Regions from separate parts of the Homo sapiens genome. Here region 1 is linked to region 2. The links come from fine-mapping of genetic effects on gene expression. A gene starts in region 2. The other region holds a variant in brackets. All regions are shown on one strand. Distances are from middle to middle.

Region 1 (2,929 bases), 89 kb after region 2:
AACTTGGAACCCAAATTACTAGCAACCTCAAAACAAGTTTTCTTTCTAGGTTACTGGTCTAATGTTTAACTTATTTTAGGTAACTGACCTAATGTTTAAATATATAAATTCTATTGCACCAAAAAAGGGAAGAAAAACCACCAGTCAGACCTCCATCTTGAAACAGTCCAATGTTTATATGTTGTCATGGACCTTTGATGACTTAAAATTGTGTCTCCGTCCAAGTCATTTGGAACTCTTGAAATAGTCAGCTAGCCAAAAGTTATTTTTAAGTGCTAATTTTGTGCCAGCTTTTGGAAAAACAAAAGTAAATAGGAAGGAAAAGATTTCTTGCTCAAGAAGAACAAGAGTTCTAGTTTGAGAGTTAGGCAATGAGCATCTAAACCAAAAATGTATGTAAGAGTACGAGAGAGTTAGGTTTCAAAGATGGTAGTCTCTAGAGCAAGATTATGGGCTAGAGATCTTAGGAAGTGCAGAAACGTCAAAAAGAGGAAGAATAGCAGCATATTCAGAAGGTGAACCCTGTAACTTGGGAAATCCAGCTGAAACCACAGATGCTGATTTCCTATTTGAACTGAACCTGTCTTTTTTCTTTTGAGACAGGCTCTTATCTCTGTCACCCAGGCTGGAGTGCAGTGGCACAATCATGGCTCACTGCAGCCTTGATCTTCTGGGCTCAGATGATCCTCTCACCTCAGCCTCTCAAGTAGCTGGGATGACAGGCATGTGCCACCACCCCTAGCTAAGTGTTTTGTAGAGATGGGGTTTCACCATGTTGCCCAAGCTGATCTTTAACTCCTGGGCTCAAGTGGTTCACCCACTTCAGCCTCCCAAAGTGCTGGGATTACAGACACGAACTCTCATGCTCGCCTTGTTGTTTCTTAAAAAAATCACATTGCTGAGCATAAGAGGAAAAATTGAATCTTTTTCCTATAATAAATCAATCGCTGGTAAAACTTAAAATGAAGAGCTAAAAGTTCTTCCAGATAACACATAAATGTCTTTGCAGGAAAGTATCTCACTATCAAATCAATCTATGCAGTTAGGCCAGGTAATTCTCCTTTCTAAGCTGATTTTGTGGCTGAACTTTTATTGTATATTGAAGGTGATAAGTAAGATAAAGGAAAGACAGTTTGGATGAGGATAGCATTCAGCATTGTGTTCAGTTTATGCAGTTAGATTTTTTTTT[C/TC]TATTTTGAAATCTTATTTATTCTTTCAAAATGCTTTTTAGGAAAACATTTGAAATAGATGTTTTTATTATCCAAGGCGCTTGTGATGTGGCAGGTTTTCTAACTGTGGTCAGATTCAGATGGTGAATAGTTCTTCATAATAACACTGATGTTTGGTGTGCCAGTTTCTTTTTATGTAGTTATAATGGATATCGTTTTTGTTCATTTTCCCCTTGTTTCCCTCATCCTATGGTATTTTTTACCATTCACCTCCCAGTATAGTATGAAAAAAATTATCTCCTGAATCACCTGTGTCTCTCAACAGGTCAGTTACGATTTGGTCAACTTGGAAACTATCCATAGAGCTAACCTGAATGCTTTGGGCCAGTAACTCCACTTAGTTCTCAACTGCAATGAGGGATTTCTATTTGATTGAAGTGTGGAGGAAAGGCTCCGAGCCAGGGGGAACACAATTGCTGACAGACTGGCATGATAAAGGCCCTAATGAATGCACTTTATAGAGCACAAAGGTAGTGTCTTTTTTGAGTCAAAATTTGGAGTCTGACTCAGTTCATATCCAGTCTCTGTCACTTGCCAGTTGTGTGACTTTGAGCAAGTCCTTGCTGAACCTCGATTTCTTCATCTGTAAAACAGACACCTTAATGTATCTGCTTTACAATGATGCTATACTCTTTAAATAAGGTTATATGCAAGATACTGAATATATATAATAGCACAAAATAGGTGCATGATAAGTTAAAGACAAAAATAGAGAGCTGTAGATACTAATACTATTCTCATTTTCAGATTTTTACTTGATAATGATGAAAACACTTCAAGGACATTGGCTAAATGTTTAAAACAGGCAAGTTGGGCAATAGAACCTAATTTAAAAAAAGACAGGAAGGTAGTGGACAGAGCAGCATTGCATAAGCAGTCAGATAGCAACTCTTCCTTGTAGTCTGAAGCAGATTTACTAACATAAATATTTGAATATTTTGAGTATTCCTTAATAAGTCAGGCATCCATGACTGACTAAGCATCATTAATACAAAGTATCTTATGTATCCTTAGTACTTAAAAGTTGTATTATTAAAGGGAAAATAAAATTGGAATATTGCAGAGGAAAAGTTATTCATAGGTTGACATAAAAGACATAAAATCTTGTAGTGCATAAGGTTTAATAGTTCTCTTTTTCATAAATCATGAAAAGGGCTTTTCTTCTAATTTGATGGACCATTTCTCTTTCTCCTTCTCCATCTCAGTCTGGTGTAGCACTTGGTGGTGTCCAATGAATATTCATGATGACCGATTTCTTCCCAGCGGCAGCACTACATGTAGAAAGAGAGGTTCTCACTGATCGCTTCTGATCTGTAGAGTACAATTTAAAAACCAGCCTGGTTAATCCACAAACATAAAACTTACCTGTTTTCACAAAACATTGTATTTAGAGTACTAAGATCTGTAAATTGTTATTTTTTTTCTTTCAAATATAGCAATCACATTTTAAAAAGGAATTTTCTGGGTAATTAAAGTAGTTCACCTACTTGCACTAAGCGTTGGTTAGGAAGGCAGCCTTGTGTACAAAGGGCTTTGTGTTTATTCTGTTTCAATGTATGGAACCACAAGGATTTTTTGATTAATTTTCTTTTAGAATTGTTTGTAAATTCAGTATGTACTTGATATTAGGATTTGGTGGAACCACTGCAGAAGGTTTTGAAAGAGCTTCACGATGCCAATGTAACAACTAACAAAATAATT
Region 2 (2,929 bases):
TTGTGAACTAATCAATTTTCTCATTTTAATACAACCTCCCTCCCTCCCTCTTTTCCTTCCTTCCTTTCTTCCTTCCTTCCTTCCTCCTTTTCCTCTGTTCCTTTCTTTTCTTTTCTTTTTTTTTGTTATACTTTAAGTTCTAGGGTACATGTGCACAATGTGCAGGTTTGTTACATATGTATACATGTGCCATGTTGGTGTGCTGCACTGGTTAACTTGTCATTTACATTATACTACAGGGCTACAGTAACCAAAACAGCATAGTACTGGCATAAAAACAGACACATAGACTAATGAAACACAATAGAGAACCCAGAAACAAACTCATACATCTACAGTAAACTTGTTTTCAACAAAGGTACCGAGAATATATGTTGGAGAAAAGGCAGTCTCTTCAATAAGTGGGGCTTGGAAAACTGGATATCCATAGGCAGAAGAATGAAACTAGACCCCTATCTCTTGCCATATACAAAAGTCAAATTAAAATTGATTAAAGACTTAAATCTAAGACCACAAGCCATGAAATTACTAAAAGAAAATAGCCTACCTCAGCTTCCCACATGCTAGGATTATAAGCATGAGCCACTGTGCCCAGTGATACAACATTTATGACTGCAAAGTAACTCATCTCCCCTTTGCAGTTAACAGCACTTTGTGGGGAGATAATTTGAGACCATGTTGGTTGTCATCAAACCTTCACTCAGATTCAGCATCATTTGATGCTTTCTTCTTCAATCAACTACTACTATAATAGTTGCCAAATAATGACCTTCCAATTCTACCTTTCCTTCTGCATACAGTAATTAGCATTCTTATGTAAGGAATAATTATTTGTTTGTTTATGTAATTTGAACTCATGAATTCCTAGTTTATTTAATGGGCTATAATCTGCTATTATCATTTGTTTATTTTTTAAAAGTTTTATTTTAAGTCCAGGGGTATAAATGCAGGTTTGTTACATAGGTAAACTTGTGTCATGGGAGTTTGTTGTACAGATTTTGTCACCCAGATCTTAAGCCTAATACCCATTAGTTATTTAATTATTAGTTATTTTTCCTGATTGTCTTCCTTCTCCCACCCTCCAGCCTCTGAAAGGCCCCAGTGTGTGTTGTTCCTCTCTGTGTGTCCATGTGTTCTCATCATTTAGCTCCCACTTATAAATGAGAACAGGCAGTATTTGGTTTTCTGTTCCTGTATTAGTTTGCTAAGGATAGTGGCCTCCAGTTCCATCTGTGTTCTTGCAAAGGACATATCTCTTTCTTTTTTATTACTGCATAGTATTCCATGGTGTATATTGATCACATTTTCTTCATCCAGTCTACTGTTGGTGGACATATAGGTTGATTCCATGTGATATGGTTTGTCTCTGTGCCTCCACCCAAATCTCATCTTATAGCTCCTATAATTCCCATGTATTGTGGGAGGGACCCAGTGGGAGATAATCAAATCATGGGGGTGGGTATTTCCCATACTGTTCTCATGATAGTGATGGGTCTTACGAGATTTGACAGTTTTAAAAACAGGAATTTTCCTGAACAGGGTCATTTTTTTTTTTTTGCCTGCTGCCATCCATGTAAGATGTGATTTGCTGCTCCTTGCCTTCTGCCATAATTGTGAAGCCTCCCCAGCTATGTGGAACTGTAAGTCCAATAAACCTCTTTCTTTTGTAAATTGCCCAGTCTTGTGTATGTCTTTATCAGCAGCAAGAAAATGGACTAATAGAGTAAATTGGTAGCAGTAGAGTGGTGTGCTGCTGAAAAGATACCTGAAAATGTGGAAGTGACTTTGGAACTCGGTAACAGGCAGAGGCTGGAATGGTTTGGAGGGCTCAGAAAAAGACAGGAAAATGTGGGAAGGTTTGGAACTTCTTAGAGACTTGTTGAATGGCTTTGACCAAAAGCCTGATAGCAATATGGACAATAAGGTCTTGGCCGAGGCTGTTTCAGATAGAGATGAGGAACTTGTTGGGAACTGGAACAAAGGTGACTCTTGTTATGTTTTGGCAAAGAGACTGGTGGTATTTTGCCCCTGCCCAAGAAATCTGTGGAACTTTGAACTTGAGAGAGATGATTTAGGGTATCTGACTGAAGAAATTTCTAAGCAGCAAAGCATTCAAGAGGTGACTTGTGTGCTGTTAAAGGCATTCAGTTTTATAAGGGAAGCAGAGCATAAAAATTCGGGAAATTTGCAACCTGATAATTTGATAGAAAAAGAAAACCGGTTTCCTGAGGAGAAATTGAAGCTGGCTGTAGAAATTTGCATAAGTAATGAGGAGCCAAATGTTAATCCCCAAGACAATGGGAAAAATGTCTCCAAGGCATATCAGAGGTCTTCATGGCGGCCCCTCCCATTACAGGCCCAGAGGCCTAGGAGAAAATGCTCTCGTGGGCCAGCCCCATGGTCCCTGTGCTGTGTGCAGTCTAGGGACTTGGTGCCCTGTGTCCCAGCCACTCCAGCCCTGACTAAAAGGGGCCATGGTACAGCTTGGGCTGTTGCTTCAAAGGGTGGAAGCACCAAGCCTTGGTAGCTTCCATGTGGTCTTGAGCCTGTGGGTGCCCAGAAGTCAAGAACTGAGGTTTGAGACCCCCTGCCTAGACTTCAGAAGATGTATGGAAATGGTACCAGCTCTTCTTTTTCTTTCTTCTTCTTCTTCTTCTTTTTTTTTTTTTTTGAGACAGTGTCTCACTTTGTCAACCAGTCTGGTCACAAACTCCTGCCTGGCCCCCCCAAGTAGTTGAGACTATAGGCATACACAACCATGCTCTACTAATTTTTTGTATTATTTGTAGAGATGGGGTTTTGCCATGTTGCCCAGGATGGTCACAAACTCCTGAGCTCAAGTGATCTGTCCACCTTGGTTTCCCAAAATGCTGGGATTACAGGTGTGGGCCACTGTGTCTAGCCTTTGTATCAGCTCTTCTTTGTACAT

Evidence for each region. PIP is the estimated chance that this variant, and not a neighbour inherited with it, causes the effect.
Region 1: its variant is fine-mapped to the expression of LINC00639 in whole blood (TOPMed, PIP above 0.99).

The regions. Positions count from the first base shown.
Region 1 is chr14:38,826,238-38,829,166 of GRCh38, reverse strand. The region is part of intron 4 of LINC00639 (long intergenic non-protein coding RNA 639); the gene reads left to right. Among named protein-coding and RNA genes, the nearest start is that of LINC00639, 89 kb to the left of the region's middle. The variant C/TC (reference allele first, on the strand shown) is at 1,190.
Region 2 is chr14:38,915,493-38,918,421 of GRCh38, reverse strand. It overlaps LINC00639 (long intergenic non-protein coding RNA 639), which reads left to right and starts at 1,540. Exons shown (of 5, transcript NR_039982.1): 1 at 1,540-1,640. All of the region lies in intron 4 of LOC105370457 (a long non-coding RNA gene), which reads right to left.